Linked DNA regions of Homo sapiens: region 1 is linked to region 2. Evidence: fine-mapped expression QTL. Tissue or cell type: whole blood. Region 2 holds a variant in brackets; the other region holds the start of a gene. All regions are shown on one strand. Distances are from middle to middle.

The links. PIP is the estimated chance that this variant, and not a neighbour inherited with it, causes the effect.
Region 1: UGCG starts here. The variant in region 2 is fine-mapped to the expression of UGCG in whole blood (TOPMed, PIP above 0.99).

Annotation. Positions count from the first base shown.
Region 1 is chr9:111,894,048-111,899,424 of GRCh38, reverse strand. UGCG (UDP-glucose ceramide glucosyltransferase) reads right to left here and starts at 2,611. Exons shown (of 9, transcript NM_003358.3): 1 at 2,112-2,611. The coding sequence starts at 2,209. RefSeq lists silencers at 2,167-2,256, 2,367-2,956 and an enhancer at 2,577-3,160.
Region 2 is chr9:111,934,413-111,939,789 of GRCh38, reverse strand. UGCG (UDP-glucose ceramide glucosyltransferase) reads right to left here. Exons shown (of 9, transcript NM_003358.3): 9 at 4,421-5,377. Among named protein-coding and RNA genes, the nearest start is that of MIR4668, 5.0 kb to the right of the region's middle. RefSeq lists an enhancer at 1,596-1,905. The variant G/A (reference allele first, on the strand shown) is at 2,416.

The DNA.
Region 1 (5,377 bases), 40 kb after region 2:
CATATAAACATATTTTAAAAGTGCTCAATGTAACTTTAAAGGAATGAAAATAGAAACAGAAAACAGTGAAATGCCTGCTACTTAGTGTTTGTAAGGCAAAATGGGGCCATCATACAATGTTACCAGGACTGTGAATATACATAACATTTCCATGGGGCCAATATGTATCAAAGTTTAAAATGTGCACCACTTCTGGCCCAATAATTCCTCTTTCGGAAATATAAATGAGATCATTTCTCAAAGATGTATGCATATAAATTCATCACAGTGTTCTTTGTAATCTAGATAAATTGGAAACAACCTAAACATCCATCAGTAATAATAAATAAATCTTGGTACCTGGTAAACTAAAATATCATGCATCTATTACAAATGATGTAGAGATCATACAGATATTGACATGCAAAAAACGGTCAAGACATTTTACAGGACAGTTCCATGTGAACAGGGGCCTTGTATGTTTGTTCTTCACTCTTCCAGCAACTAGAACAGTGCCTTGCACAAAACGGCTTTTCAATAAACATTTATTAAACAGATGAACTTTAAAGCAGGTTACAGAACAATAATCATAATATAGTCCTTTTCTCTCTTCCCTCTTCCCCTCCCTCCTTCTCTCTCTCTCACACACACACACAGATTGGAAGGATAGTCACAAAAGGTTAACAAGGTAATGTAGTTTTGGTGTGTGCATATTTTAATTTTCTCCATCTCTCTCTATTGCATAAATTCCTTACACAGTAAGCATTTTTTATTTTTATGACGGTAAAAAGTAACAATTTTTTTAAAGAAAAAGAACTCACATATTTTAAATGAACTCCAGAATGTGCTGTGACTAAGCTCACCAACTCCAAAAACTAAAGTCAACAATATCCAAGTGGCATGTTTTCTTTCACTTTCAAAGAAATATCAGTATAACCTGTACCAGCATCATCTTTCTCAGTACCAGGAAATGCCACACTATACTAATAAAATACAGTGTTTCCAAAAGCAAAGGCACACTTTTTCCGCAGTAAAAAGGAAAAAAAAAAAACCAAAAAACTAAAAGTAACTAATTTCTTAAAGTCTCTTCCACTAACATACACTCTATTCTAGTTCATGGTAACGATTACTATATACAATTGCTCTTTTCTCCCCCCAGACTAAAAATCCAAGTGAATCGATATCAGTAATGTGCTCTATATAATTTTTTCATTTCTTTACAGAGGCAGATTTCACCTTAAACAGTGGATATACCAAACTAGCCACATAACCCATGTCTCTATTCACGCCATCACCCAGTTCTATTTTACTTACACGCTTCGTCACAATCTCATAACCTTATTTAGATTTTATCTGCTCCTTCCTTCTAGAATGTAAGACTCATGAGGACAGGAATTCTGTCCTGCTCACCACCATGTCCCCTGGCCAATAACAGTGAATGGTATCTAGTAGGCCTCAAGAAGTATTTGTTAAACAAAAATGAAAAGATGTGGCCGGCACGGGGAGAGTACAAATCTACATAAAACAATAAAACGAGGAACTGAAAAAAGGAAAGAAAACCACGCTGAGATGTACAAGCTGACAGGACTCAAAGCTATCATGCCAGCTCGGAGGTTTGGTGGACATTTTTCAGGGTGGACAGGTGCTTCACACCTATCTAAGCGCATAGAGCCCTTCCAGGAAGAAGAAAATCCACAGAGAGGTGTCCAGATAGCTGTGAGCAGCTCCCAGAAAAGTGGACACAATCACCACCCTAACAGAAACGTGGCCCAGGTCGGGAGAAAAAAACAATACACCATACATCTCGGCCCAGATGAAAAATTACACGAATCCCCAGCACAATCAAACCAAGCCACCACCTTCAGCCTGACACGTAAGAGCAGTCTCCTTTAGCCTGGCTGGGCAGTCGCCTGCAACCCAGCAAACCCTTCCCACGCCCAACACTTTTCCCTCGCAAAGACCACCGCCACCGCCGGTCCGAGGGGCGAGGGAACGGGGGGAACAGCCTGACGATCAGCTTTCTCCACCCCCGCCCGAGCCCAGTCCCCTTCAAAGCGCAAACGTTTCCCATTCTCGCCTGTCTCCGAGGCCCGGACCCCTGCCCCGAGCCCCTCCTGCGGTCCCTCACTCACGTGTAGATGATAGCCATGAAATGCATCAGCCACAGCACCAAGAAGAGGACGAACCCGAAGACGGCCATTCCCTCCAAGGCCAGGTCCAGCAGCGCCATCCCCCGGCCCGCCGGACCGGCCCGGCCCGCTGCGGCCGCCAACACGGACAACGCTCCCGCAGGAGGAGGACAGGGTGGGCGCCCGGTGCGGGGGCGCGGGAGGCGAGAGGAAGGTGGGGAGAGGAAAGGGCGGAGGGGGGTGGGGACGGAAGGGGCGGGCAGGGCCTGCGCGCCCCCGCCCGCGCGCTCTCGCCTGCGCGCTGTCTTCGGCGCGCTCGCGGGCGGCTGCGGGTGCTGCGGTCTCCCGGCTCTGGTCGGGGCGACCGCGGTCCCGCGCTCCGGTTCGCCTCTCCCGAGCCTCGCGGCCGCCCACCAGACCCTGCGCGCGGGCACCTCCGCCGCCTCTCCGTCTCGCCGCCGGGCTCCCGGCCGAGCAGCTCCACCGCCGCAGCTCCGCGCACTAATCAAAACCGGCGGCTCGCGCCCCACTCCTCGGCGCGTCCCGCCCCCGGAACCGCGGCGCCCGCCTCTCCCAGGGGCGGTGCCCCCATCGGTCCACGCCCACCCTGTCGCCCGCGCGCCCGCTGCGGCGCCGGCGAGAGCGCGCCGGGGAGATCGTGTCCTGCTGCCCGCAGGACGCAGGCCGGGCTTCCTCCGGCTCCTCGCTCCCGCTGCCGCCCACCTAGGCGGAAAGCGCTGCAGCCCTGGGCCGGGCTCCCTCGGTGTCGGTGGCAGCTCGGGACCCTGTGCCTGGCTGGAGGCTGCTCTCTCTCCGTCTGGCCCTGCTGTTCCTGGGTGCCCCAGAAAAAGACACGGGTTCCGGGCAGCTGCCGGAGCTTGTCTAGAAATCCAACTTCCAACGCCGCGTCTGCAGCCTCCCCGCCGGGCACTGCTACTGCTCGGAGCAGCCAGGCCCTCCAGGCCACGTTCCTGGGCGCAAGGGATGCCCATTGCCTTCCCTCTTACTGCTTTTAATGCTGTGGGATCTTGGATCAAAAGGGACCGGAGAGTAAAATAATCTCCATGCGCCTCACAGATCTCTAAGCGCCTTAGCGACCGTGTGTATTATAAAAAGAAATTCTCAAATTCAGAATTAAAGAATCAGTTGATATTGAAATTCCCTAAGACTGCCATCCAATACGGTAGCCGCATGTGGCTAAGTGAGGGTTGGAAAGGCAGCTTGCCACTCTGTGGAGTAAACAGTACACCAGATGTGGAAGACCATCTCGTTAGTAAATTTTATATTGATTGCATGTTGAAAAGGTAATATTTTGGACATACTACATTAAATTAGGTAAATTATTAAGTTAATTTCTCTTTTTAAATACTTTGGCTAGCTACTAGAAAATTTTAATTGTACGTGTGGACAGCACAGCTCTAAAATGGGAAGAAATGTCACTTTGGGTAGTAAGGTAACTAAGTATTTGTCCTAATTTTAAGTCATCCCAAGAAGATGCTAGTACTCAATGTTTGTGTTTCTTCAATCTAGATGAGTTTATACTATTTCTGCATTGTTTTATGTTTATTGTTGCAAGTGATTTCCTTTTAAATAATCCATGACCTCCCTTGAGATATTTCAGAATTGAATTCAATTTTGAAAAGAAGTTGTGGCTGGGCGCGGTGGCTCACACCTGTAGTCCCAGCACTTTGGGAGGCGGAGGCAGGTGGAGCATGAGGTCAGGAGTTCAAGACCGGCCTGGCCTAGATGGTGAAACCCCGTCTCTACTAAAAATACAAAGAATTAGCCGGGCGTGGTGGCAGGCGCCTGTAATCCCAGCTACTCCGGAGGCTGAGGCAGAGAATTGCTTAAACCTGGAGGGGCGGAGGTTGCAGTGAGCCGAGATCGCGCCACTGCACTCCAGCCTGGGCGACAGAGCGAGACTCTGTCTCGAAAAAAAATAGATGAATTTAAAAAAAAGAAAAGAAGTTGTTTATTATTGCTGTTTATGGTAGTTAATAGTCACTGAATGATCTACCTCAATCTGCAATTAAATGACAAACTACAACTAGAAGAGTTAATGTCCGAACCATTCCTCGATTAACATCCTTGGCTCCACTGGTGCAGAATCAGTGGGAAAGAACAATGCTTCAAAATCAAATTCCCACTGTTGAGAGTTACTGGCTGATAAAAATAGCAGGATGGAGGGCCAGGCGCAGTGGCTCATGCCTGTAATCCCAGCAGTTTGGGAGACTCAGGTAGGAGGATTGCTTGAGGCCAGGAGTTTGAGACCAGCCTGGGCAACATGATGAAACCCTGTCTCTACAAAAAAAAAAAAAAAAAAAAATTAGCCAGGCATGGTTATGGCACCTATAGTCCCAGCTACCGGGAAGGCTGAGGTGGTAGGATCACCTGATCCTGGGAAGTGGCGGCTGCAGTGAGCTGTGATCGCGCCACTTAACTCCAGCCTGGGTGACAGTGAGTCCCTGTCTTAAAAAAAAGTGGAATAGAATTCTAACATCGAAATAACGTTCCAAACAAAAATTTACGATTGTAGTTAATTCTAAGGCACACTTCAAAAAAACACTTTAACAAATTTTAATTTCTCTGAAATGGGAATGCATCTCACAGTCAATGCCATCTTAGAGTTAATTGGCGTTTTTTCTTTTTTTTTTTTTTTTTTTTGAGGTGGAGTCTCGCTCTGTCGCCAAGGCTGGAGTGCAGTGGCGTGATCTAGGCTCACAGGAACCTCCGCCTCCTGAGTTCAAGCAATTCTCCTGTCTCACCCTCCCCAGTAGCTGGGACTACATTTGCACACCACCACACCCGGCTAATTTTTGTGTTTTTAGTAGAGACGGGGTTTCACCATATTGTTCAGGCTAGTCTCGAACTCCTGACCTCGTGATCCACCTGCCTCGGCCTCCCAAAGTGCTGGGATTACAGGCGTGAGTCACCGTGCCCAGCCAATGGCTTGTGGTTTTCTTTTACTCAAATATAAAATAATAGTGCATCTTAGTGATATATAAAATAATGCTGCATCTTATCATTAAATGCCCTCTTAGATTTGAGGAACACCAATTGCTTAATTTAAGCATTGTTTTATATTCTGCATTTTTTCAAAAATGTTTTCTGGAACCTTACAACAAAGGATTTTATACAGTATGACCAATAACACAAAAAAAGAGGCCAAAGAAATGTGAAAGTAGATATTCTTAAGAGTTAACAAATTTGCTAAATTGAGTATAATCAGTAGATTAAAGATCAGTTATATTATACTTGACCCTAGTTAA
Region 2 (5,377 bases):
ATCACTGCACTCCAGCCTGGGCGACAGAGGCAGGTTCTGTCTCAAAAAACAAAAAGCAAACAAAAACAACAACAAAAACCCAAAACCAGAACTAGAAGATTCTAGAAGGGGAAAATAAAATTTTAGTATTTTACTCATGTGTAGAGAAATCTTTTGTTTTAGTAGGGTGAGGGTGGGGGGGTTGGGAGCATGAAATAGCAAACACCTTACTAACACAATGAGAGGGTGGAAAGGTATTAAATGACATATGTGCCAGAATTAATGTTTTGATTCTGGCTTGACTGTCAACAATAGACCTTTCCCGAGTGACTATTACATGAATGCACTGGAGGGAAGGGTACAAAGAGAAAAAAGCACAAAAAAGGACTACTAAGATATGCAAAGTCCAGGCCCCTGAAAACTGGAAATGACCTGCAGACACGTAAGTGAAATGCCTGACAAAATGAAAGGGACAAAATGTGGGCACACACAACTCTGGAAAGGTCCTGAATTGAATGTGAGTTGAGGTTTAAAGGAGAGTATGTTGACCAGGTGCGGTGGTTCACGCCTGTAATCCCAGCACTTTGGGAGGCCGAGGCAAGCGAATCACTTGAGGACAGGAGTTTGAGACCAGCCTGGCTAACATGGTGAAACCCCTTAAAAATACAAAAATTAGCTGGATGTAGTGGTGCACGCCTGTAATCCCAGCTACTCAGGAGTCGGAGGCACAAGAATCGCTTGAACACAGGAGGTGGAGGCTGCAGTGAGCAGAGATTGCGCCACTGCACTCCAGGTGGGTGACAGAGTGACACTCTGTCTCAAAAAACAATAAAACAAAAAAACCAACAATAAAGAAGGAGAGTATCCCCATAGACAGGGAAAGTGAGGATGAAGGGAGAGAAACTTTCAGGGCAAGGAAACAGCATGGGAGCAAGGAAGCTCTGGTTCCACACGGAAAAGGGTCGGCTGGTGAGAGTGAGCCATTGGGTTGGGGGTGGAGAGCTCAGGCTGGAGAGATGGTGATGTGAAATGAGAATAGAAAATTAAGGACCACCTTTTCCTGGGCTTGGAGTAAGGCTGAGGAACATGGGGTCAGAGGAAGAAGCTGAAGTCAGAAGTCAAGCTCCAAGTCAATGTAGAGACAAAGCAGGAAGTAAAACAAGCAATATAACCAAAAATAAGCGAATCAGAACAAAATGAAAAAGGGCAGACTGTGGGCAGGGCTAGGGTGCCCACAGCTGCTTCCGGGATGCCGATTATGCTGTTGGGAGACAGTCTAGGATAAAGTCAGGAGACTGGAAGATGGGGATGGACAATTCCCCTTCATCGTCTCTTAATGACCCAACTTCTTAGGACATTTCTCACAAATTCAAGTCAGGCTTAGTTTTTTGGCTTAGTATTACTGGGACCTTGGGTGGAAATGCATCGTTGTTGCAGTTTCCAAATATCTGTGCCCATCGCTTTCATGTCTTTTTCACACGCAGCCAAACCTAAAGCATCTGACTTCTGCTTCTTCCACTCTGATGAACTGGCTTCCTGGGAGCTGCCTTTCTTAAACTGTTTCCTTGGCATCAGAGTCATATGGGTGCTCTCAGGGTCAGGAGCAATTTCTGTCTTTGAAAGTCCCACCCCTTTGTCTCTCACTGTAGAAAATATATCACTGTGTAAAACAAGAAAAATCGTTCATAAAGAAGCTGTATTACTCCCACGCAGACACTTCATCTATCAACGTCTGAGACAATTCACTATGGCGGAGACCCACGCTGGCAACTCTACAGGGAGTTTCCTGCCCCAGAGTTCACCAGCCTCTTCTCATCCTTTACGGTCAACGGCCCCTCCCGTGACCACTTCCTTCTTGAAATCTCTCTTTCCAAGGCTACTGTGGCACTCCTTTTACTATTTCTTTCTTCTTTGGGAGGAAAAAGGCACTAACTGTCCCTATGCTCATGTACATGACCTCATCGAATCATCTCTACCACCTCAGGTGCTTTAGTATCTCCATTCTACATGGTTAAGAAAGCTTGGCTCAGAAAGATGAAGGAAGCTTCCTAAAGTCCCATAGCTACCAAAAAGCCCATTTGGACCCCAGGTTTGGCAGCCTCTTTTCCTAGATGTTTTTCTTCCATTGTCTCTCTAAATGGCACTTTGACTTTAGTTATAGTCACTGTCTCAGCCATCACCTCTAGGGAAATTACTCCCAAGTCACCACTTCTAACCCATTCCTTTCCCCTGCTCCAGAGCTGCACAATAAATAGTCTGCTGGATTTCTCCAGCATGTTCCTTAGGCTGGCCTGGTGTCCGTCAGTCATGAGGGGAAATGATAGAGGTTTCACATCTGGTGACAAGGGTTGGGAAACAAAGGTGGCATGACCGCAATGGGGTGTGCAGGCAGCAGAGGAGGGGTGCAGATACTCTCAGTCCTGTAGAAGAATAAAT[G/A]ATATCCCTAAATTGCTTAAATTAGATAATTACAAGTCCATGCTATTAGCATGGATGTCTTAATGATGATTAGTCTAAACAGCACAACCACATGAAACCATTCCAGACACCCACAGTCTCTGCCAATTTCTCTCGGAACTGAGGAGGGGCCATGTGAAAGGCTTAGCACATTTTGGTTCTTAGGAAACTAGCTGCTTAGGGATCTCTTAAAGATATGTATTTTTGTTTTTAGAAAATACTAGGATAGTGATTTTAAACTTTTTTCTAGGTATCAATATTTTTAAAGCAAATTACCCAACTAAACACATATCCTTGCAGCTCTGCAGAGACAGGTACTCACCATTTTGCGGTTTGCTTTCTTTTCACCGAAATGAACTTGATATGGTCGTAAACTATAACTTGAAATGAATAAATAAATAACTCAAGCACTAGATCCTGATAAACTTCAGAAGGAAAGGTCTGAACTATTTCCATTCTCATGAACACAGTCTTGTGGTATGCATCAATCTTATCAATCATGTATGTAAAGCATTTCACTTTAAATGAGCTTTATAGTAATTTACATTCTTGTTCTACAGGTTTGAATCTGGTTCTCTAGAACAATTTTTGAGTTAGGATACAGATGGTTATTAAAACTGTGATATTTTTCCCCCTTAAGGTCTAGGTAAATTTTCAAGCCAGTGTAAGCATAAATTTAAATGTGGTCCAGCGGAGAAATATACCACACTGGGACCAGATAGAGGGGCTACTCCCAGCTCTGCCACCAGCACCATGCCTACCTAACCCTATGATCACAGCTCTCACCGTGGGTGTCTCAGCTTCTTCATTCTAAAATAAGGGTGAGGGATCCTCAAGATCCACCTAGCTATGAAATTCTAAGACATACTCAACTTTGTGTTGATCATTTCTTAAACTGTAGGGTTAGAAGTACACAAATGAGAAGGAATGTTTGTTTACTGGGCCAGATCCCTTTTAGACTGTGTCTTACGGCTCCGATAACAGAATACCATAGACTGGGTGGGTTATAAACAACAAAACTTTCTCAGTTTTGGAGGCTGGAATGTTTAAGATCAAGGCCCTGGCAGATTTAGTGGCTAGTAAAAGCTGACTTTCTGGTTCATAGCTGGTCACCTTTTTGCCGTATCCTCACATGGCGGAAGAGGCAAGAAAGCTCTCTGGGGTTTCCTTTATAAGCATCAATCCCATCCTGACGGCTCTGATCACCTACCAAAGGCCTCACCTTGAAAGACCCTCCTCACATTGGGCATTAGGTTTCAACACAGGAACTACGGAGAGACAAAAATATCAGCTGAGAGCGGATTCTTTCTACCCCGGATTTGTTCTCCAGTTAAGAACATTCTTTTCTCATGGGATGGTGGTAAAACAGGCCTGTAAAGGCTTCCAGCTTGGGAGGGACCTGGCCTTGGAAAGTATGTAAGGTGCATCTCCCATCTGGGTCTCAAGTAATAATGCCACTCCATTCCTTCCTTTGGATTTACATTTTCTAGCCATTAGAGTGGTAAGATCTAAAAGGCTGAGTTCAAGCTGTGAGCCCGGGGGGAGAGGGGCCCAAAGGACCACTGGCTCTTTTCTAAAGGTCATTACGAGCCAGTCATTCTCACAGTAGAATCACGGGTAGAAGAGCTCAGGCCTCACCCAAAATAATTACACCAAAATCTATGTGGGCAGGGCCCAGGGTGTGTGTGTGTGTTGTGTACAGGGCCCAGGGTGTGTGTGTGTGTTGTGTACAGGGCCCAGGGTGTGTGTTGTGTATTTTTTTTTTTTTTTACAAGTTCTCCAGGTGATTTTAACAGGCAACCAATGTAGAAAAGCCATACTTAAGTCACAGGACTGCCTATGTCCTTATTTATTTTACCTATGGCTCAGGTAAAAGGAAGATTTCAAAAGGAATACTTGACAGAACTCTTCTAATAATTCTGATGTGAATGGTGGAACATGCTACTTATAAAAATACAGAAGAACAAAAAATACACTATTGCTAACGTTTTGATTGTATTCAAATTTTTATTTTTTGAACAAAAATTTAAGACAATGATTTTAAATAATAAAACATGGTATATATTCTAGACACTGGTTTTTTTTAAAGATTTATTAAATTTAGACTCCTATAGTTCTGTTGTGATGCTTTCTTCAACATTTATATTATTTCTTACCATTTTATCATCACTCCAAGCTTGCTAAACAAAGAATCTCTCTGTTAAGTGAAGTTTTACATTAAGGAAATACTCCACTAGCACACTGAACAAACCTACAGAACTGTCCTAGTTTATATTTACAAAACACAAGAAGTCTGTCCAGCCATTTTGGTTTTGTTGTTACACTGTCCATACTGAGATCAGCAGAGAGCTAAGTAATACACAAGATTACGCTTCGGCAGTGCAAAGGATGGCATCAACCAAACTTCATTAAACAGACCAACAAGTACAAACATGGTGAGCAAAGTTCAACTCAGGTAATAGTGATTAAAAACAAAACATGTAGTGGGTCACAACCAGACTGGTTTTCACTGTGCAACTTTCCTCAGGGAATAATACCCATTCACAGAAAGAAAGGAATATGCATCCAAGCCTTTGTTCATAAAGAAAATGCCCTTCAAACAAATTCATCATAAGGCTAAAAAAAAAAAAAAAGAAAGAAAAAAGGATGAAGCAGTTTGGCCCAGAGAAAAGCTTAAATATAATGTGTATACATACTTATAGATATGTTGCCATTTAAACCATGGATATAGACATTTGACAATTAAATGAATTGGCTCAGTAAAGTGAAAAAGTGTTTTCTATAAATATGTAGTTATTGCTGATATGCTACACATTATGCTTTGACATGGAGACTGTAGTAACTCAGAATTTAAAGCTGCCATATTGCCAGTGTTAGCCCTGCAGTAGGCATTCCTGTGGACAACATGCCATCCAATCCTGAAGAAAAAGCAAAACACCACTAC